3 linked regions of the Homo sapiens genome follow. The protein of the gene in region 3 purifies or fractionates together with the protein of the main gene of each other region. This does not show direct contact. Each region holds a gene or a part of one and is shown on either strand. Other genes may lie near its edges.

What was found.
Region 1: the proteins of GNAT2 (region 3) and ACSL4 purify together in Homo sapiens (affinity purification with mass spectrometry; 3 studies listed by BioGRID and IntAct, with this or other methods). This does not show direct contact.
Region 2: the proteins of GNAT2 (region 3) and ACSL3 purify together in Homo sapiens (affinity purification with mass spectrometry; 3 studies listed by BioGRID and IntAct, with this or other methods). This does not show direct contact.

The regions. Positions count from the first base shown.
Region 1 is NC_000023.11:109,730,132-109,738,549, forward strand, and holds the start of ACSL4 (long-chain-fatty-acid--CoA ligase 4), read right to left. Parts: upstream 3,127-8,418; 5' UTR 3,008-3,126; exon of another isoform or gene 2,380-3,007; intron 1-2,379. UniProt on the Homo sapiens protein: Catalyzes the conversion of long-chain fatty acids to their active form acyl-CoA for both synthesis of cellular lipids, and degradation via beta-oxidation. Preferentially activates arachidonate and eicosapentaenoate as substrates.
Region 2 is NC_000002.12:222,926,440-222,934,161, reverse strand, and holds part of ACSL3 (fatty acid CoA ligase Acsl3), read right to left. Parts: intron 7,146-7,722; coding exon 6,973-7,145; intron 5,301-6,972; coding exon 5,226-5,300; intron 3,542-5,225; coding exon 3,350-3,541; intron 997-3,349; coding exon 882-996; intron 1-881. UniProt on the Homo sapiens protein: Acyl-CoA synthetases (ACSL) activates long-chain fatty acids for both synthesis of cellular lipids, and degradation via beta-oxidation.
Region 3 is NC_000001.11:109,601,998-109,609,719, forward strand, and holds the end of GNAT2 (guanine nucleotide-binding protein G(t) subunit alpha-2), read right to left. Parts: intron 6,792-7,722; coding exon 6,634-6,791; intron 4,440-6,633; coding exon 4,311-4,439; intron 4,103-4,310; coding exon 3,973-4,102; intron 2,108-3,972; coding exon 1,954-2,107; intron 1,548-1,953; coding exon 1,357-1,547; 3' UTR 1,094-1,356; downstream 1-1,093. UniProt on the Homo sapiens protein: Guanine nucleotide-binding proteins (G proteins) are involved as modulators or transducers in various transmembrane signaling systems.

The DNA of each region.
Region 1 (8,418 bases), on a different chromosome or scaffold from region 3:
GATGGATTGCATCGATTTCAATTTTGTAGTTGTGATGTTACACTATACTTATGCATGAGGCTATTATTGGGGGAAATTAGATAAAGCGTATTATTTCTTACAACTATATGTGAATCTACAACTATCTCAAAATAAAAAGTTAAAAGGGAAAGAAAGAGTATATAAGACCAGCCAATGGTAGAAGTGGAAAAACAAAGCTTTTATTTTTGCTAAAGGCTCAGCAATTGAAAGGATGGAGAAAAAGGTAATGTCAAAGAGTCTACAGGCTACAATTAATAGAATCATCTCTTCCTCCCCTATGGAAACTTAACTTCTCCAGAATTTTGTTTGTCCTTGATTTGACTGTTGTTGTTTTTAACAAAAATAAACTGGATGTACATCTGTCTCTCCACATGCCCCCCAACCATCTCCATCAGCCCAAAGTATAAACTCATAGAGTAGGGTTTGTCTTAACCATCATGTCCTGAGGGCCTGACATACGTGACAGATGAAGGAAGAAGATAGTTGAATGAATTAATAAATGAATGAGATGCCCACATATTATTTTAAAGTTCCTAGCCAATTACAGTTGTAAGGCAGTATGTGAGTGCGGTGGCGCGATCTCGGCTCACTGCAAGCTCCACCTTCCGGGTTCACGCCATTCTTCTGCCTCAGCCTCCCAAGTAGCTGGGACTACAGTCACCCACCACCACGCCTGGCTAATTTTTTGTATTTTTAGTAGAGACGGGGTTCCACCGTATTAGCCAGGATGGTCTCGATCTCCTGACCTCATGATCCGCCGGCCTCGGCCTCCCAAAGTGCTAGGATTACAGGCGTGAGCCACCACACCCAGCCATTCCCTTATAAATTTCTAAAAGCCATGGACATTTAAAAAATAGTGCGGTATAACACACATTTCACTTGCAAGCAGAAATTAACATAATACCCAACATTTGTAAAATGCTTCTGAGTTTATAGATTTTCACATATAATTATTTATTTAATCAGGATTAAGAACTAAGTATACCTAAATTGAAACCACTATACACAAACCTTTGAGAAAAACATTCTAGTCAACTGGTATAACAGGATTTATAACAGCCTTAACGCAAATTGCATTATATGTGTGTGTGTATACCTATATATACACGTGTGTATATATATATTTGTCATATATATTCATTATAAGAATATATCATTCAAATTGGGGGACTTGTGGATCATTTCAACAACCATAAAGACACTTATTTTACAGATGCAAAAACTAAGAGAGGTGAAGTGACTTGTTCAAGGTTAAATATATATCTAGAGTTGGGTCTAGAACCTGAGCCTCTCCAGAGTTCCAATTCATTTCTCTTGTCTGAATTGAACAAGACTCTTCTTTCTTCACCCATCTCACCCCTACCAAAAATACTGAAAGAAATATCTTAATCTAAATCACTTGTGTTTTTAAATAGGGGGTTTTCCAAAAAAAAAAAAAAACCCACAAAATTGAATTTACTCAAGCTTTCAATTGCTGTATTACACCTTCCATGGATTTTTAGTTGTCAAATTATTTCTTATAGCAGGACAATAAGGTACTTTATTCTAAGGTACAAGTATACTAACAGTTTAATGTTTCATCCCCCACCTAAATGGCAGAGAGTGTTAATTCTAACAGGAGTCTTACATGTCTTACACTTTAGCAGTTTCAATCAAAAGATGAGCTATTTTACAATTTAAGGAAGAGGCCTTACACTGTTAAAATCTTGACCGATATGCTCAATGGCAGTACCATCATTGAATCTCCACCTGCTGCCTTACGTATCAAGAACATTTAAAAGTCTTTCTTGTTAGAGACAAAATAAAAGAAAAACTAAGGTGACAAGCGACTATGAGAAATAAGGCTTTAATCAGGTTAAATTTGCATTATGCAGCCTGCATGAATTTAGAGGTCCTAGAATCAAAACACTAGAAGGAACCTTTGATATGCTCTAGTTCAACAGACTGATTTTTGCAGAAGAGGAAACTGAAGCGCTGATGAGACCATTAACTGATAAAGCAAACCGCTTACTTTTTCAAAGGGATTCATTTCAATGCCATTTTACCCTTATTTTGCATCTCACTGTTGTTTCTCAGAGCGACGATTGACCTTTTTTTAGGTGAAAAGAGCGAATAGAGCGTATTAATTTCAAGAGGGTGAAAAATGCCTTTGAAGGAGGAGATGCTGGAGTGAAGAGGAGAAATGACGTCTTATTTAAAATATGTAACCCCTTGATGGGGTTAGACAATGAATCATATTCTCCTAGATTTTTCTATGTCTATAGACATCAGCCACAGTTCTTTCAGGCACTCAAACGAGAGGAAGAGGAAGTGAATAAAGCTCATACTAAATATATAGCACCCACTGAAGGCAGGGATGTAGACAGAAAGAACGGGGGTGGGGGAAGGAAGGAAAGCACGCTTCGCCAGGATCCAGCTGTTTTCTAACAAACCTAAGCCTACGGAAGCTAGGAAGATATCGGAAGCAAGGAAGATATCGGAAGCGACGGCATCCCTCAAATTCGAGAGGGCGGATGCCTCTAGGGCTAGAGAGGCTCCCTAGCCCTCAGTTACAGAGCGACTGGGAGGGGACAAAATGGAGTTGAGGTTTAGGGGCACCCTAAAGGTCGTTTGGAGGTCTAGCAAGCACTTCATGGTCTCCTCCGGAAAGGGCCGTGGCAAAGCCTAGTACCCCGATCAGGAAGATGACTTCTGGCCCTCGGGATGCGGTGAGCGGCAGGAAGAGGCAGGCTGGGGTTCCGAGGACCCCAGAGTCCATCACAGGAGCAGATACAGTGACCTCGGGAATCTTCCCGGCCCCAGCGGAGGCGAGCGGATAGATAGCCCTGGCTCAAGGAAAAAAGCGAGCCGACTCCAGGAGCTGGAATGCCCACCCAACCTCCTCCCGGCTCAGGTGAGGTACGCCAGTCCCCCTCTGGAAATGGGGCCCTGGTACCGACAGGGCAGGGGTGCCGGGGCCGCAACCTCCCCATCCAGGGATACTCACCGGAGGGGCGGCCCACCGCGTCTTCGCAGCCGGCCGGCGCCTGGCACTCGGAAAGCTCGCAAAAAGGAACCGCGTGCCCGCTAGCGCTGGGACGAGGAGGAGCGCGCGGCGGAGGCCAGAGAAAAAGCCGCAGCGGCGCGCGCGCACCCGGACAGCCGGCGGAGGCGGGACTCAGCGCGAGCCCGGAAAAGACGCGCCCGGAGGGGCGGGCGGAGCGGGGGCGCGCGGTGGTGTGGCAGAGCCAGCCGAATCGCTGGCTGCAGACGGCTCGGCCCACCCACGCGCCCGCCCCCGCTCGCCCGGGACGTCAGTCGAAAAGGCGGAGCCGAACGGGCTTCCCGGGGCGCGGGAGGGGCGCTGCGAGGAAGGCGAGGCGGCTAACGGCTCGCCTCAAGTTGTTGCTCCCGCTGGCGATCCGCTTCTGTCAGTCTCGCTGCTGGTGTCGTTGAGTGTGTTTCGGGATGTCCTTGCGCCTAACAGCAGTGAGGCGCAGAATTGGCCCACGCCCTCACCTGCGGCTTGCTTCGCAGGACTCCACCCCAGGATAAAAGTTCCCCTCGGGTCATCTTCCAGCTGCCCTCAAAAGACACTCATTTTTGGGTTTCACTGCTCCTCTTTAAGAGAGCTATCTTGAACACTTTGACTAAAAGCATCTTGCTCCTGTAAGCCTGAACTAATGCCTCTCATCCGTTTATCTTGCCTCTTACTGCGTTAAGATCCCCGCTCACTCCCACTGATGAAATATCACAAGGACGCAGGATTTTCACGTTGTCTTTCATTTCCACGATGGTATCATGGCAAAAAAACCCCCAACTGATAAGGAAAAGTCACCGCAGCTTTGTGACATCTTACTAGCCCTGATCATTGCTTATAAGCCGGTCATACGAATGCTGTTCCAACAGATGCAAGAAATTGCTATTAAAATTAAAATGCCAGCGAACTATCTGAGGGCTTCAAAAGGGACAGACCATAATTGCAAATGAGGCCTGATAAACTGCCAAGAATATATCACCCAAAAAAATAAATCTCAAGAATTCTTCCAGTTCCCTGATGCGTAATGGTGAACTAGCTTCCTGTTCCTGATGGTAATTGACATTTCACTTCACTTGCTGATTTCCATTTTCCCATAGAATTACCATTTGTGCTTGTGTGTGTGTATATATATATGTATATATAAAATGCCTTACCACCTGAGATTACAAGCTAGAGTAGTTCTTCAGTGTGCATCACAATTATCTGGGGTGCTTGTTGAAATGTAGGTACCTGGAGCTACAACCCCCAGGTATTTTGATTCTGATCTGGGTAGGGATAAGAAATTTGAATTTTTAATAAGCAGCCCAGGTGACACTAAAAGTGGTTAGCTGAGAGCACAGAGCTATAGTTTTTGTGTTACTACTCTAAAGCCATATTACCAATTCAATTTCCAAGAAACCCACCCACTTACATATAATATACCTATAAATATTGCTAAGACAGTCATGTAGCTTCCTTTTTCAAGATTGACCTACAAAGTTCAGTACTTCAAACAACGAGTTTAATTGTCATGTTTATTTTATGAAATCTTGTTTTAATACCAGAAATAAGCAATCATATGTCAGGTACGTAATTCACTGGGTAACTATGATGTACAGAGCACTATCACCTACAGTTGGGTTAACACAAATGAAATTGAAGAAATGAATATCGCTGTTCTCAATAAAGTTAGTGTCTAGTTGTGGAATTAAAATATAGATATAATACAAACCCAGTGTAGCACATAAATCAGTGTGCTGGATGAAGATGAAAAAGAACTTGTAATTAAAGAGTACTTTTGCCAGTTTCCTTTATTGTCGGTCTCTTAGCCCAGACATTTTCAATTAGGTAATTTCCTCTGAACAGAGTCTTCAGCTTACTGAAGTTCCTCCAGCTCTACAAGATATAAAGGAAAGAAATCACTATAGCCTGAAACTATCCGTTTTTTGGTATACAAATGTGTGTATGATATACATATAGATATGTTTATCAGACCAAGAAACTACTTGGATTTTCAAGATCTCTTATTACTTAAGCTATTCATTAGTGTGTACAGTTCTGGCTGTCTTCATCACCTACCACATCTCACCTTCTTCCACATTTAACTGCACCCAAGTTGAAGAGGAAAGAAGAACTATACCTCCAAAAAGGAAACCAAGTATAACCACGCTATTTCCAGCTTTCCTTTTTCGGAGTCAAAACAAACCTTGCTTAATTTCTTGTCATCAGAAACCTTCCAGAAATTACTGCCCAGGAGCAAAATATTTCCCAAGCAGCTGTCTGACATTTTAAAGAGAACATTTGCAACGTTGTTTATTAGTTAGGAAGATAGGGTATTATTATCCCTATTTCACAGATGAAGAAATAGATGCAGGTTAAGTGTCTTGTCCAGTCACACAACTAAGTAGTAACAGAGCCTGAATTTCCTACTACACTGCTTATGACTCCTAGACCAGGGTGCTTGCCGCTACATTAAGCTGCCTCTGTAATGAGTCCTACCCAGAACTACCAACCCAATTAGAAATGGAGTAGATAAACGTATGGAAATGGAAGAGTTAGGAAAATGTACAATGCAATTGACAGATTCAAAATGCAATGTAATAAGTACTAAAAGCATGAGAATTAGTCTGTTAGAAGCTAAACAGAATTTAAAGGACAGCTCTGTTAACAGGCACTGATATTTAGGCCTTGCCTATTTTATTATTCTGTAACAAGAAGCTGAAACAGATAGCCAGGCTGCTCTTGGCATTAGTTATTTATGGAAGGGCAGAAAACAACTGTTCTTCATTGACTGTGTAACAAGCCTTTGCGTGTTAAACTTCACGGGTTTGTAGAATAATAATAATTTTCTCCTGTGGTCTAAATACAAGCAGCAGGGCTTCATAATAATATTTGCATTGACAAGTTGTGTTAGATTTTGTCATTAACAAACCTTATTTTTTGCAGACCCAACAACCAGGCCAAATATTGTCTTTAGTGGCTTGTGTTAAACAACCGGTGAAATCAGAAACCTACGTAGATGATCATCTCACTGTGAACATAAATAATAACCTAAGCCACTCCTTTCAAAAATGATCAAAGGCATAGTAGCTACATCTAAATGTTATTTTTGAGAAATGATTTGTTTTTTCAAAATAACTATTTCTTTTCATTCTGGCACATTTTTCAGGTTTTTAAATTAATGGAAACACCAAAACAAATAGACATCTAGTGCACCCAGATAGGAAGACACAGTATTGCATGGAGTCAAGTTTTTCCAAATTAATCCGTCAAGACAGTGTGGTCCACATCAAAATCACAGCAGGATTTTAATGGAACTTAATTTCGGTTTCTCTCATGAAACTCATTTGTCCTTTTTAAAGATAACTACAACACCCTCTAAATAAAATCCTCCACAGTTATCCTTGAAATTGTTTGTGTGACCTTCCCATAAAGAATCAAAAATAACAAAATATTTTTATTATCCATAAGGCCATGAGTATGTGAAAAATCTATTGTGGTTGTCATTGAATCTGTAAGAAAGTTGCCTTTGGTATATTTTTGCCCACTCTCTGTAGTGATTCTAGCCTAGTAATATTACAAAAAAAGATAGGTCATCAATTTCATAACTTGCCTTAAATCTCTTTTTATTATGCTTTCCCTTTAACATACAAAAAGCTTCCAATATGTCCTATTCTTAAAAGACCAGTAAAATAACAAAATTTTAAAATGTCCCTTACTCAAAATCTTCGACTATTAGTGCTGGGAAGCCACTTAGATGCAGAGTAGCACGATGGAAACCATATGGGTTTGGACTTAAGCCAACCACCCTAGACCAAGTTATATAACATTTTCCTGAGCCTCAGCCTCTTCTGTAAATTGGGGATAATAATGGTACCTCATTCATAAGACTCTTCTGAGGGAGGATTAAATGAAATCATGCCTATAAAATTCCTGATTTATGGCAAGTGTGTATAAAATGATGGCTATTAATCACCAAGTTCAACCTCTTCATTTCACAGATGAGAAAAAGGAAGCTAGAACCAGAACAATCTTTCTCCAGATTCTCCTATTCAGTAACTTTCTTTACAACTAAGGACAAATTCCTTGAGAAGTGGTCTACAGCCACTTCATTCACTAAGTCACTATCTGACCTCCAAGTTAATCTCCATTCCCATCAATCCTACAAATATTCCTGTTGCTAATGCCGTCTATGAAATAGACAAACCCCATAATTATGCTTAAATAATTATGGGACTATTTCACTCTGAAACTGAGTGAATAGTCCCCACTGGGACTATTGGACTGATTAAACCTTTGGATATTTATTCAAAGCATCCCTCTTCAAACCAAAATTCTGTAATAAAACTGTCTGCTTCACTTGGACCCTACATGGCACCTGATACAAGCCAAATTACTGTTATTCAAATAAAACATTTTTAACAATATGTTTGAATGAATAATTATTACTTTTAGAAATAGATATAAAAGATTATTAAATATTTTTAATTTTTCTTTTCAAGTTGGTAAGATCTTTAGATTGATAATATTCAATTTTGGCAAGAATATGAAGAAACTTGCACTCATATATTCTAAGTAGGAGCGTAAATTGGTTTGGCCCCTTTATTTTATTTTATTTGTTTATTTTTGAGACAGAGTCTTGCACTGTTGCCCAGGCTGGAGTGCAGTGGCACGACCTCAGCTCACTGCAACCTCTGCCTCCCGGGTTCAAGAGATTCTCATGCCTCAGCCTCCTGAGTAGCTGGGATTACAGGTGCCCGCCCCCATGCCCAGCTAACTTTTGTATTTTTAGTAGAGATGGGGTTTCACCACGTTGGGCAGGCTGGTCTTGAACTCAGAACTCAGGTGATCCACCTGCCTCGGCCTCCCAAAGTGCTGAGATTACAGGCGTGAACCACTGCACCCAGTCTGGCCTTTTTAAAAGACAATTTGGCAGTATCTTTTAAATTTTAAAATGCATATACTCTTTGACATTTTCATGTACAGGGCTCTACTATACAGAGAAACTTGAACAAATACACAAAGATCTATGCACAGGAATAGTAACCAGAGTATTATTTTAATAGTGAAAAATTAATCAAAAATCCCAAGTGTTCATTAATAGGAATGCGGTTAATACCTTATGGCATATCCATACTATGGAATACTGTGTTAGGTTAAAAAAAAAAAAAAGAATGAGGCACAATTATTTAAATATCTATATGCAAACATAATGACATGAAATGATGTTTGTGATATATTATTAAGCAAATAAGAGCAATTTGCAGTTCGATACACATAATTCATTCTCATTTTGAAAAAATATAAGTATATGTCACAGTATGTGTGTGCAGCAAACATCTGGAAAGATCTGTACCAGATCTGTACCAGATCTATTCCAGATAATGAACAGTTGTTAT
Region 2 (7,722 bases), on a different chromosome or scaffold from region 3:
ACATAAATTAAAAACTATCTTAAAAATTCAGCAACGAATCAAAATGATGTGAATATATTCTTTTTTTTCTTTTGTTATCATCAGAATTTGTATTGATAGAGGAACTCTGACTATGCCCAACGAAGGCAAATACTTTTTTGAAGGCCATAAAATAGTAACATCAGGAAGAAGATGCTTCTGGTTACTATCACATGAATAAATCCAGATCTGTATCATCACTAAAGAAAATACTAAATGGCTAAAGACCAGAATCATTTATAAATAAATGCAATTCATTTCTAACTTGGGCTGTACCCCCAACATCTGTTTCTAAATTAGTTTTCCTGATAACAGATTTTATTTTCCCATAATAATTCATGTCAACTGTCGTAGACAGGTCCCCAGCTGCCTCTTCATCATCATGAGGTGGGGAGGCTGTGTGTTTAGGCTGCAGCTTAACACAGCTTACATAGGAGCCCCAAGACCTGCCTGGAGTGCCGAGCAGGCTCAAGTGTAGAGCAGGAGTAAGTAAGCAGCACACTCCTCACTGCCACTTCTTTACTCCCCATTCCTCTGGAGTAGTTCTGTGAAGCTTCCCCTGCTGAGGGACAGGTAGGTAGGGGTACCAAGGCAGCAGGAAGGAAGGTTTTATTTTCTTCACCTCCCTCCATGGGACACTGCAGTGAGACGTAAAGCAGAAAACAGGGACAGAGAGAAAGATCAGGGGAAGCCTTACAAGGAAAAGAGTCAGCTAATGGCTGCAATGAGAAGGAGGCCATTCCCACAAGTAACAGATAGGAAGAGTTCTCGGAACATTTTTACAAAGAAGGTCCATACAGGTAGGAAATGTCTATGGACATCAAATATTTTAAGTAAAAGTAGTATGAATTCCACGTTCTTACCTGTTTGCATATGCACAAATGTTATCTACTAGTGGAAGATTCTTCAAAGCTGCCTCTACTTTCCCAAGAGAAACATATTCCCCTGCCTGTAGTTTTACAAGGTCCTTTTTACGATCTGCAAAACAAAGAAAGGTGGAGAGGGGAAAACAATGAGTAATAATATTAGTAACATTTAATACATATATAAATACTGGCCATTCTCTAAGTAATTTGCTATCAAATTATTTAAAACTTTGCAAAATTAAGCATTAATGGTTATGCTGAAATTAAAAGCACATATTAAAATTAGGCCCTAATTTTTGTACTGCTAAATACATGCTTTTTTTTTTTTTTTTTTTTTTTTGAGACGGAGTCTCGCTCTGTCGCCCAGGCTGGACTGCGGACTGCAGTGGCGCAATCTCGGCTCACTGCAAGCTCCGCTTCCCGGGTTCACGCCATTCTCCTGCCTCAGCCTCCCGAGTAGCTGGGACTACAGGCGCCCGCCACCGCGCCCGGCTAATTTTTTGTATTTTTAGTAGAGACGGGGTTTCACCTTGTTAGCCAGGATGGTCTCGATCTCCTGACCTCATGATCCACCCGCCTCGGCCTCCCAAAGTGCTGGGATTACAGGCGTGAGCCACCGCGCCCGGCCCATGCTTTTAAAAGAAAAACAGGCCAGGTCCAGTGGCTCATGTCTGTAATCCCAGCACTTCGGGAGGCCGAGGCGGGCACATCACTTGAGGTCAGGAGTTCGAGACCAGCCTGGCCAACATGGTGAAACCCCGACTCTACTAAAAATACGAAAACTAGCTGGGCGTGGTGGTGCACACCTGTAATCCCAGCTACTCAGGAGGCTGAGGCAGGAGAATTGCGTGAACCCAGGAGACAGAGGTTGCAGTGAGCTGAGATGGTGCCACTGCACTCCAGCCTGGGCGACAGAGCAAGACTACATCTCAAAAAAAGAAAGAAAGAAAAACAATTAACTTCTACTTAATGGACTCCATTAGCAGGGCTTCAAGTATGTTCTTCTGAACAGGTTTATTTCTGGTATCCATTAGTACCAGGCAGGTGAAGAAGATATTCAATGCCATCTGCAAGTTCACAACCTATCTGGAGACATGCATAATGCAAAAACGTATTACTTCAATACATTGGTACTACAATGGTAGCGCTAAGTGTTAAGACTCTCCAACCTGGGGATTTGGAAAAAATTCTTGCAAGTGAGGCCTGAGCTGAGGGTTGGATGGTTGGTTGGTTTTGAGATTTTGAGACAGGGTCTCACTCTGTTGCTCATACTGGAGTGCAGTGGCACAATCACGGCCTCCTGGGCTCCTGTGATACTCCCACCTCAGCCTCCCGAGTAGCTGGGATTACAGGCCTGAGTCACTATGCTCAGCTGCTTGAGCCGAGTCCTAAGGGAAAAGTGAGAGGTCAGGTGCAACAACACTGGCAAAAGCCAGAAGAACATCAGCTCTAATTTCAGCTGCATCAAGGAGGAGGAGGAAAACAACTGACGATGAAGGTGAAGAGGGGAACAATGTTAACAGGGGCACCCTGAACTGAGCTTCTAGGAGACATTAAATGGTTGTGGCCAGTAAGATCCATGTTTAGTAATTACATGGTGGCAGTGAGAGGGTGTGTTTAAGGGGGTAAACATGGCAACAGAGAAATTATTGGGAGAGGGTGGCAGAAGGTACAGGCCTGACCAATGATCAAGTAAGAGAGACAAAGAGAGAAGAGTATGATTTTGAGACATAGCTCATAAAATAAACTAGTGGGATATAAAATAGGCATGGGAAGCTGACTGAAGAGAACAGTCTTGAGTCTCCTCCCAGGTTTCTAGTTAGCAAGACAGGGATAGAAATGCCATTAACTTTTTTTTTTTTTTTAGACAGAGTCTTGCTCTGTTGCCCAGGTTGGAGTGCAGTGTCGCGATCTCCGCTTGCTGCAAGCTCTGCCTCCCGGGTTCATGCCATTCTCCTGCCTCGGCCTCCCAAGTAGCTGGGATTACAGGTGCCCGACAAAGACACCACACACGGCTAACTGAAATGCCATTAACTTTTAAAAAAAAAGAACCTAAAAGGAGAAGCAGAATAAGGTATTTTTCAACCCATATGAGTCATAGTACTTGAGCTGCCTGGCTTTCCTCTATTCTCCTGGGCAGGGCAAGGCAAGGGTGCAGTTCAGACTGTGAGAGCTCCATCCACTAATCTCTAGATGTCAGAAACACAGGCAGGAAACAATGACTGAAGGTTATCTAAGAGTAATTTAAAATACCACTGCTGCTGAACCATCTTTGAGAACTCATAACATGTCAGGCCTCATAAATTCCACAGTCCGTAATATTTTATATTCCAGGAGTGATGCAACAACCCAAACTAAGATTACATAAAGATTTATATTATTCAGCGCCTCCTCTAAATATATTGTGCTTCTTGTGTAAACTATTTCAGAAACATTCATTTTCAAAAAAATATTAGATGACTTACCAATAATCTTTAAGCATCCATCGGGTTCAAACTCTCCAATATCCCCAGTACAGAGCCACCTTTGTCCATTTTCATCTTCAAAGAAATCAGCTTTTGTTTTTGCTTCATTTTTGTAGTACCCCATTGTCACACTTTGGCCCCCAATAAGAATTTCACCCCTGGGGTGTGGCTTATCAGTATTAAAGTATCCACCTAATAAAATAATAATTGAGTTAATAGTTGAGTTAAATACAACACATGAAAATTTGAAACTACTAGTTTCTAAACAGTCATCTTATTTTAATCCAATTAGAACTTCCCAAAGGAAAAAAGGCAGACACTATGAATGAACAAAGTTTATCAATTTAACAGTAGGCACAAAATCTCAGTTGCTAAACCATAAGTATTTATGTTTTCAAACTTCTATTCTGAGAAAAAAATTAAACTCTAAAACCCAACATCTTCCATTTGTTGTATAAAATTATAAATACAAGAGACAAATTATTTGAAAGATTCTGCAACATCTTAAATATCATATTGATAAACTGACAGAAGTATTAAGTCATGCAATTAATAGAACAAATCCCTATATAAGAATGAGTTACTGCTGGGCCAGTGGCTCATGTCTGTAATCACAACACTTTGGGAGGCCAAGGAGGGTGGATCGCCTGAGGTCAGGAGTTTGAGGTCAGCCTGGCCAACATGGTGAAACCCCACCTCTACTAAAAATACAAAAAATTAGTCGGGCATGGTGGCGCACACCTGAAATCCCAGCTATTAGGGAGGCTGAGGCAGGAGAATCACTTGAACCCAGGAGGTGGAGGTTGCAGTGAGCCGAAACCATTGACACTGCACTCCAGCCTGGGCAACAAGAGCAAAACTCCGTGTCAAAAAAAAAAAAAAAAAAAAAGTGAGTTACTACATATTAAGATTTATTCTTATAGATAATTTCAAAATGACTCCAAGCCTAAATTTATTAAATATTCCCACTAATTCTGCTAAAGATAGCTAAAAGACATCCAAGCCTTAGAATCTTTCTTTATTTATTTATTTTGGAGATGAGAGTTTCGCTCTGTCACCCAGGCTAGAGTGCAGTGGCGCAATCTTGGCTCACTGCAACCTCCACCTCCCGGGTTCAAGTGATTCTCCTGCCTCAGCCTCCCGAGTAGCTGGAATTACAGGCACGCACCACCACGCCTGGCTAATTTTTGTATTTTTAGTAGAGACGGTTTCACCATGTTGGTCAGGCTGGTCTCGAACTCCTGACCCCATGATCCGCCCGTCTTGGCCTCCCAAAGTGCTGGGATTACAGGAGTGAGCCACTGCGCCCGGCCAGAATCTTTATCTTTACTTAATGTAGAGGAAAGGTGCATCCCAATAAAACACAGATAATTTGTATATTTTAACAGGATCAAATAAATTTTTAAGTGACCATTATTTTAAATGGCATGAGAATAAACAGACTTCTATGGAATTGCAGTGAAAATTTCCTTCTAATAATACAAGGTTGAAGCCCTCAGAAAAAAAAAGAAAAAAATCATTTAAAAATCCACAATTTCATAAAATAAATTTTATAATTTTACTTCTGCAAAATAAAGTTATGATCACTCCTAATTTATTGACATTATTCACTTATTAGTACATTTCTCAAGTTTTTGCCATAATTCTTACTTGCATCTACGTAATAAGTAAAATGAAAACAATAATAGTTCTTCAGAAACATCTTTGAAACAAGAAAAATAAATGCATTCATATAGTTCGAGATAAAACACGTCTATCACAAAGGACAAAAATGAGCACTTATGGGTGTTTACATTCTAAAGCAAGAAAGTGAAGCACTAATTTTCAAGTTTAATACTTTAAAAATTAATGCTCTGTGGTTAAAATAGTTTATTACCTTCCTCCCAGTTTTTTAATTTGATTTCACAGCAAACTAATGGTGCTCCCACTCTGCCAGTATTGTAGTCCCACACTAGGAATTAAATGAAAAAAAGGATATTTGAGAACAGTAGCTAATACACTGCTTCATTTTTCTAAATTACCAAAAATGATTATTTATCCTAAGGCTGAGGTATCCCCAGCTATTCCTTAAAAGCAGAAGTCACATATTGGTGAAGCACAGGCCGTGAGGCCTGTAGAGTCGTATTTTTTGGCCTACATTGAGGTTTTTTTTTTTTTTTTAAATTAGTTATTGTCATTCTTAAAAAATCAGGAAATTTTAGATGTAAGTGTGGAATCGCCAGCAACAATGGGCCCACATTTCAGGTACAGCAGAACTGACGGCCTCTGTTAGAGAGGGCATGCCTGCTCCTGTTCCCTCAGAATCAATCCTTACCCATCACATTGTCTTACATTAGGGCCCACTTGACTCATTTAAATAGGTAGCTGCCTGGTTCTTGAGTTTGAAATCCCTGTCTTAAAGGATGATGAAAACAATGGTTTACGTCTATTCTACTTTCTTATTAGGCCTCACCGATGTGCAGTATAAAACACCTCTCTAATCTTTTCCCATGTAATGTATCACCATTTCAAAGTGAGATCTCTGCAGGCTTCCATCAGCTTATGCTATCACACCCTATTTAAAATTAATACAGCAATAGCTCAAGAGCCAGGCTGAAGAATAAGACTGGTGGCTTTCAAGGATGTGAGGAAAGAACCCTCCACTATTATGAATTACTATTGCATTATGTTTCCTCTTCAAAGACCAAATATCAGAAATGAAAGGCTGATATTTAACATTTTAAAGACTTTTATTTAAAACATAAACTGTTACTGATTAATCATTCAATTTGAATCTTAAAAATAGAAGAAATTAAGGATCCTCAGAAGAAAGAAATCCCCTATGCATGTATTTAAGATTGCTTATTTCCTACAAAACATGACTTAGAACTAGCTTCCAAAAATATACGAAAACAGAGAACATAACTGAAAAACAGAAAAATGAAGTAATACATGAAAATGGTATACAGAGCCACTCAAAATAAATAGGGAAAAATCAGTCATGAGGTTTTGTATCTATCCGTATATGGCAAATACAAAGTAGGAGAAGCACAGCTGTATCCTGTACCGGAAAGCAAAATAACTTTCTCCCATAAAAGGGACGCATGAGGCCCTATGCGATTCATCTCAGAACTGCTGATTAGTTGGTAGATCTCCTCCTCAAACACAACCACATGATAAACTCTGGTAATAATATTCCCTAGACCAGAACTTAGTTCCTTCTCTAACACTTACAGAAATCCTCATAAACATTTCTGAACCTGAGCCTTAATATACTCACCTACACAAATAAACAAAAGCACCTTAAGTTTTCTACATAAAAAGAAATTTAATCACTGATGTGAGAAAATAAATGTACACAAAACAGTCAGTGTTTGTTACTAAAGTTTCTCTTCCAAAATGCTAAGTGGTTTTTAATATTACCTATCAGTTTGATATAAAAACTTCTCCAGATAAATTATTGACTCCAGATGCATCTAATACATTCTAAAAATTGATATCAATGATCATAGTACTTGGAATCCACCATTATTCTGCCTCACAAACACCTTACTACTCTTCTCCTATATATTTGCAGAAAATATCCCATACCCCAAAAAAACGTCTGGCATCACACTCCAGCCTCTGACCATGGAGAACACTACCTTCGGAAATTGTTCCAGCCCCAGCAGATTCAGTGAGCCCGTATCCCTGACCAACAGGACAGCAGAAACAGATGTTCATGAATCGCTGCGTGGTTGCAGAAAGTGGAGCGCCACCACACAACAGGAGACGAATATTTCCCCCTAGCAAGCTTCGAACTTTCCGGAAAACAAAGCTAAAGAAAAAAATTAGAGAACCACAGGATTTTAAAACTGAATGGGATTTTCCAAATCACTTAAACTAATCCCCCAGTTTTGATATGAGAGATTTTGAGATTAAGTTACTTATCCAAGGTCACACAGCCAATTTGGAGAGTCTCTTGAGCCCCAAATGTTAATTTTTTGAAGTTCAACAAGGTAAAGAATTTATTATTTCCTCTTAAGAGCTTTTCAAGTGATATTCGAATTTGAATTGTCAGGTTTAGTTTTGTATAGTGACAGGAAAACCCTTGCTTATGGCCACTTTTATATCATTATTTACATAAAATATTTATCATATATTAATACTGAACAATTCTATCATCTTTATGAAATGTATTAAAATCAAATTAATTTTTGCTTTAATGTACTTTATTAGAAATGTGTATAATTTGTATACCACAATCTGTTTTTGAAGTTTCACTAATTCAAGCTTTGAATTGTTTGTTAAAAATAATCTAGTAAATTATCTGTGAAGCATTTAAAAAAGGAAACAAGTTAAACATCTAATTGATGTTTCTGAAAATACACTAATACAAAGATTGCATACTGCCT
Region 3 (7,722 bases):
ATATACTTAACTTCATCCCCTTCTGTCAAGATAAATGCAAACTTCATTTCCCCTCAAAGGAGTTCAAAGGAAAACTTCTTGGCGTGTTTGGGGAGATGTTTTCATCCACCATCACATGGACCCAACTGCAAAGATTTTCAGTGCCTAAAACAAGCTCACCTGTCTTGGTTCTTCTGAAACACGTAGCAGTTGAAAAGTTTAGAATTGTTCACTTGTTCCAAATTCTATGATAGAGAGGCGGCAGCAATACATTCATTAATACTCTAAATGAGAGTATTTGATGTCCTCTAAGTTTATTCAGGAAGTATCTTATGTAGCTAAGAAACATTTGTAGAGATAAAGGTCTGTTTGATAGCCTGGGGGCAGAGGGATAATGTTTGCTTAATAAAGATGATCGTTTTGGGATGTGCCTTAGAAACTAACAAACTCGCATCTCCTATCCAGTGATCCAGATCTCTGAGCTAAGGCACATAGAGGTCTGTTAGTAAAAAGGGAATGGCAGGTTTATTTAGGTTTGGTTAATACTAGTTTTTTACAGACTATAGGAAGCCTTGCTATTTTGCTTGGAATAGTTTGTTGCAATAGTTTATTCTAAAAACCAGGTGTTGAATTTAATATATGGCAGCTTTTATATTTTTATATAGGATTTATTTCTGTGACCCTAAGCACAAGCAGGCTTTTTTTTTTTTTTTTTTTTTTTTGAGACAGTTCTGTTGCCCAGGTTAGAGTGCAGTGGCGTGATCTTGGCTCACTACAACCTCTGCCTCCCGGGTTCAAGCAATTCTCTTGCCTCAGCCTCCCGAGCAGCTGGGATTACAGGCGCCTGCCACCATGCCCAGCTAATTTTTGTATTTTTGGTAGAGACAGGGTTTCACTGTGTTGGCCAGGCTGGTCTCAAATTCCTGATCTCGTGATCTGCCCACCTTGGCCTCCCAAAGTGCTGGGATTACAAGCGTGAGCCACTGTGCCTGGCCTGCACAAGCAGTTTTTATGTGCCTTCCCTTCAGTTATGTTCGTGCTCCTCAGAATAACCCTGTAAAGTAGGTAGGGAAGTCATCTTCATTTTATAGTTGAAAGACTCAAGACTCAGAAATAAAGTATTCACAGTTTTGTATTAAGTTGGAAAACCAGTACTGGAACCTGGGGGGTCTTCTAACTACTGGCCTGTGCTCTTTAAGCTGCAATAGCTATCCCACTTTGAAAAGAACGTATGAAATACAGTTGCAGTCATGTATACTCCATCTCCAAAGAATGGATTCATTCTTCATGTCATGGTATATTGACTATAATTTTCTGTTTTTAATTACCCAGATTCCAAGCCTGTTTATAGAACTTATACCTGAGGAATGGTGAGGATTAGAAGAGGCCGCAGTCCTTGAGGTTTTCTTTGATGATAATATCTGTAACTGCATCAAACACAAATTTGACATTCTGTGTATCTGTAGCACAGGTCATGTGACTGTAGATTTCTTTGACATCTTTTCGCATATTGAGGTCAAGGAACTGGCTCTTTATGTAATTCCCCGCATCATCATAGGAGTTGTTACCTGGTTTTCCAGAAAAATAGTGAAAAAGTAGAATAAATGAACCCTTGTTAGTTGCTGACTCACTTTAGGTGATTGACTTGATCCTTGAAATGTTATTAGACAACAGCAGTTGGGGGCCTATTTTTGGAGGGAAGATTCTCTATTGCACTCCAGTGTTTCTCACTTTAGTTGAAAAGAAATTGAGGAGAGGTGTCTTTCCACCTTTGGTTTTCAGTAGGTATCATATGAAGTCAGTGGCTCTCCTGCATCTAATGCCTGCTGTATTCCAGAGTATCTGAATTTAAACCCTGTAACTGTGCCCAAGGTTCTCCCTTAAGTTCCTTTGTGTCATCTTGGCCTAAAAAATGAGACAATTGCCAGTCTCTACTAAAAGGCATTATTATTATTTCCAGCCCCTGACACTTACCATCATACTCTGGAAAACAAATGCTGAGATGGACTTTCTTGATTTTTTCCTCAAAGAGGTCCTTCTTGTTGAGAAAGAGGACAATGGAAGTAGCCGCAAAGAATTTGTGGTTACATATGCTGTTGAACAGATGCAAAGACTCATGCATACGATTCTAGTAAGAGGAAACACCATTGGAAATATCAGATTTGGCTTATAGAATATCTACCTACTTCCTGCTCTTGTTCCCCTTGGAGAGACCAGTGCTCCAAATGTAAAAAGCAAGACAGAGAACAGCTTATCTCAATGTACCAGAGTAAAGCCAGAGAGATGTGGGATCATTCTAGTTCCCTATCTTTCTAATAGCTGTGTGACTTGTGGAAAATTATTGAGCTTTTTCTGAGTCTGTTTTCCTATCTTATAGGGTTACAATGAAAGCTAAATGAGATTGTGTATGTATATTGTCCATGATAGTGGCTGGCATATAGGTCTATAATGTGTTATGCAGATCTTTAGCAGCCAGGATGCAACTGAGAACTTGACATTTTATAAGTAGTGCTGATAATGGGTTGAAACAGGCCCAAGTTAGCATGTGCCCATATGCATCTCCAGGATGATTTTGATAGGCTTCTTTCATGGGGTCCCAGATCTCAGTTTGGGCTACTTTGGTCCTGCTGCCACATGGTGAGAGTTAGAGAATTTCCCAGTGCCATACCACAAGCATTTCTGCTCTCTCATTTCCTTCTCTGATTGCTACTTAGCGAGAAGTCGGGCTGCATATCTGCAGAGGCTGCCCATTGCCCCAGCCCAGCTTGCTTTTAGGGAGCAGGTCTTTAGGGTTTTGAAGTATACTATCAGCTGACTTGCGTTCAGTCTACTTATCTAATAAAGCAAGAACAATCCCATTTGTGGCTTTTTCCCCATAATACTCCTGTACAACCCTTTAAGGTCTCATAGACTTGTTTTATTAATGTCTCATAGACTTTAATAAACCTCATAGACTCATAGACTTTAGGGTTAAAGATGGAAAGTCTCATAGACTGTAATCTTTAGGCTTAAAGATGGGAAGTGAATAGCTCTGTAAGACATTTTGATTAGACGATATTCAGAGTGCTCTAATGTGAAGTTAAAACTACCAAAGGGAAGGGAAGAGAACAAGCTGTGGCAAGGGATAGGAGTATCCCTTTCATCAGCAAGCTGTGGACCTCCATTTGTAAGCAGATGCTTGGGTGAAATTAACATTTTTCACGCCTCTAACCTTTCCCAAATTCAGAGGTCATCAGCAAGGTGTGGACCTCCATTTGTGAGCAGATGCTTGGGTGAAATTAACGTTTTTCACGCCTCTAACTTTTCCCAAATTCAGAAAGCAGATGCTTGGGTGAAATTAACGTTTTTCTCACCTCTAACCTTTCCCAAATTCAGAAACTGGCTGGGCTCTAACACTTGTCCTATAGAACTCCTGTCCTACAGAATTCTACAGGCTAAAGAGAACCACTCTTGGGTAGTCTTCCAGCTGCCAATTTAATTGGCATGAGAGAAAGCTGGTCTGCCAGTCTCTCCTTAAACTCCTACGGACAGTACATTTTTAGCCTCCTAAGTGGGGTTACTAGCTCAACCCTTCTATTATGTTGCAATGAAGATTCATATCATATGTTATTTTCTCTGTTCTGTCATTTTCATCTCCTTCCTTAGGCAATTTGGGAGAGTACTAAGTGTAACTCCTTTGCTTTGCCTAGTTGATGGTCCCTTATCTCTTTGCACTCAATTCCTCTTATGAGCTTTGTGATGTCCAAGTGATACTTAGATGTCTAATTTGAGACCAAGCTCACTGTCAGTAAATTTGGAGCTCTAAAATGCTAATCTAGAACCTGCAGAAGAAGTTGTTTTTTAGAATTATTTGCATGAGACATTGATTGGTCTGCTGGAGGGCTGCTAGACTGAAATTACCTAAGTTGGGGCAGTAGAGTGACACAAGGCTTAGAGAAAGGGTCATGGGGAGAACTTGTTCTACCAAAGCTGCTTGATGCAAAGGCCACTCACCACTTCGTCATCTTCCACCAGCACCATATCATAGGCACTGAGGGCTGCACAGAAAATGATGCAGGTGACTCCCTCGAAGCAGTGGATCCACTTCTTTCTCTCGGATCTCTGCCCTCCCACATCAAACATCCTGAGGGAAGAAGCAGCTATTTTCATAGGTATGCCCAACATACGACCTATATGCCTTTGATGGTCACCCCGTGAAGTGGGAGAGGAAAAGGGGGAGAAGCAGAACAGTAATTTAGATTAGGCTTCACCAAAGGCCAAGAAGCCTGCCTGTGCCCCTTTTCAGGATTCCACACGTGTATCCGAGATGCCCTAGGGAACCATGCACTTACCTGAAATTCAAGTCTTTGACGGAAAACTTGGTTTCAATGATGCCCGTGGTTTTGACTCTGGATCGGAGCACATCTTGCTCACTAGGGAGGTACTCAGGGTCTGTAATTCGTTCTAATTGGTTCAGGTAGCTAGAGAAAAGTGATTAGCATCAATGACAAATTTTCCACAGACGAGGCTAAGAGACGTAAAAGGTATCTTACCCAAAGTCACACAGCTAATTTGGTGATAGAAATCAGGACTAGAAGCCATATTGTTAAATTTAGGATTCTTTCCTTCAAACCTTCATATGTCATTAACTAGAGGAAATGGGGGATGGACTGAGGGACAAGCCCATTTGAGGCTGGAGTTCCAGCGCATTTAAATCAAGTTAGATAAGTTTTCCTTGGGTTTGCCCTGACTGCAAGCTTTTGTAGATTTTTGAATGAGATTTAGTGGGTGCTAAAAGTTCCATCAAGAGGCAGTAAATTGAAAGAGACTTTAAAGACATGAACCAATGCAACACATGGACTTTGTTTATATCCTGAATCAAACTGGGGAGGAAACATTTGAGATAACTGGGGAAATTTGAACACCGACTTGGTGATATTTGATGCTATTAAGGAATTGTTAACTATTTGGGTGTGATTATATTCTTTTTATAAAAAGGGTCAATATTTTAGAGATCCATAATGACATTTTTAGGATGAAATGATACCTGGAATTTGCTTCAAAATAATCCAGTAGGGAATGGAGGTAAAAAGAAATAAGATTGGCCATGAGTTGATAACTGTTGAAGGTAATTCATTATGTTATTTCTACTTTTGTATGTTTGAAAGTTACCTTAAAAAAGAAAAAGTTATTTTTTTTAAAAAAAAAAAAGGTGGCCAGGCACGGTGGCTCGCGCCTATAATCCCAGTACTTTGGGAGGCCGAGGCGGGCGGATCACAAGGTCAGGAGATCGAAACCATCCTGGCTAACACGGTGAAACCCCATCTCTACTAAAAATACAAAAAATTAGCTGGGCATGGTGGCGGGCGCCAGTATCCCCAGCTACTTGGGAGGCTGAGGCAGGAGAATGGCGTGAACCCGGGAGGCAAAGCTGGCAGTGAGCCGAGATTGCGCCACTGCACTCCAGCCTGGGTGACAAAGCGAGACTCCGTCTCCAAAAAAAAAAAAGGCAAGAGGAAGGCAGATGTGAACTGAGATGACTGAGAGGAGGAGGGAAGTACAAGTAACACAAGTGCCTATTGTATGCCAGGCATTTTAATGTTCAGATTCTCGTTTAAACTCCTAAGCCATCAAGTTTCATATCCCCATTTTACAGATGGAGAAATTCAGAAGAGTTAAATACTTGGCTAGGGTCAAGAGAAATTGTGGTGTATTATGAAAAATATTCAGCTTTGTAGTCAAGCAGCCCAATGCAAATGCAGTCTCTGCTATTTATCTACATGACCTTGGGCAGTTAATTAACTTCTCTGAACTTCAGTTTTTCCATGTGTAAAATGAGGCTAATTAGAAAGGTACCATCTACCTTAAGGTCTTACTGCGTAGATGGGTAAAGGGCGTTGAGATGGTATACACAGTACACCTAGCAGTGACTGGGCTTTGAGTGCTCCGGGAACAGTAAGTGATAGCATTATTACAAGATTAGGAGACAGATGGTTAGGTTAAATAAACTCAGGTTTGACTTTGAAGCCCATACTTGTCTATGATCCCATACTGTCTGAGGTAGGATTGATAAATTATGTCCCTTAGCTTTTTGGAAGCAGCTTTGCAATGATGGTACTAATTCCTGACCACCTTCCCTTGGTTTGCCCTTGTAGTTTGTGTCCCCTGCCTTGGCATCGTGACATAAGATGCTCTAGGTGTAGGAGACTCATTTCTGCTTAGTGGCCTAAGTAGATCCTAGATTACCAGATAGAAAATTCTGCCCTGAAAGAGCCATCATGAATCACATTACTCCTGCGAGAGTGTATGACAGAACTGCAGGGCTATCTTAGGGTTCTGGAAGGAGAGGCTTAGTGTACACCTCAATTAAGAGAACAGGGCTGAGGGCTACTAGGCAGAACACGTCTTTTGAATTTTGCATCTTCAGCCTTGTAGGCTGTAGTGAGCCAGTGTAAAGCAATAGAAAGTCATGACAACTGTGGCAGATCTCCCCATAGCATTAAATTCAAAACATTGCTGAAGCCTAACAAAACAGATCCACAGGCTGAATTCAGTCTGGGTCTCCAGCTTTCAATGCCTGAAATTTTGGGTTGGGTGAGGTTTCTCCCAACCAGAGAGAAGACTGGCTAGAAGATTGCTTAAGCATCAACCCACCCTCTCACCAGTCAGTCTTACTAAGATGCGGAGTCATTAAGCTGGTATTCTGCAGCTCTCTCGAAGCAGGCTTGCACCCCACCATCCTTCCACAACCTCCTAATGACCTCCACGAGCTCAGGAGGCATGGTTCCCTCCTCAATGGAGTCAGCCAGGTTGTTGAGCTGTCGCCCGTCATCCTGTAATGCAGAAACCTGGTTAAGAACTTCACAGGAGTAATAGCTTTCCAGGAGGCTTCTGGGAATACTGCTGAATGGAAATCATTTTACATTACTACGAAGACCTAAGATGGAAGCAGTATCCAGTGAAGATTCTATGTAAGAAAACATACTGTTGAATTTTTGAGTATGCTCCCCAGATGCAGAGGGTGGCACTATACCCAGCCCTGGGGTGTGTCTAAAGCGGGGCAGGGGTCCCAGGTATTTCCTCTCTGGAGTTTCTGGCTTCCATCCTTAGTCTGAAAGTTTACCGCCACAAAACGTGGGTCCTCTGCTGCAGAGAGACTGAAAATGTAAAGGCCAGATTGACCATGAAATAGACAAGATAGAAGACAGGGACCCATCACCTTTGTTCTTCAGCGATTGAAAGCTAGAAAAAGTCCAGTACTAGAAGTAGGGATTTCACTTACAAAAGTTCCATGGCCAGGAACCCAAGGGTAGCAATTTAAATGGTAAAGTAAAAAAGCAGAGGAAGCTGTGAGCAGCTTTATTTTGTAAATATGTGTTATAAAGTAGGGCTTGAGGACAGGCACGGTGGCTCACACCTGTAATCTCAACACTTTCGGAGTCTGAGGCAGGAGGATTGCTTAAGGCCAGGAGTTTGACACCAGCCTAGACAAGATGGCAAGACCCCTTCTCTACAAAAAAATTTTAAAAAATAGCTGGGTGTGGTGGTGCACACCTGTGGTCCCACCTACTGGGGCTGAGGTGGGAGAATCACTTAAGCCTGGGAGGGTGAGATTGCAGTGAGCCATGATCACACCACTGCATTCCAGCCTGGGTAAGAGAGGAAGACCCTGTCCCAGTAAAAATAAGGGTGGATGTTGCTTACTTCTCCAGGACTGCATAATTGTGGTGTATTATGAAAAATATTCAGCTTTGTAGTCAAGCA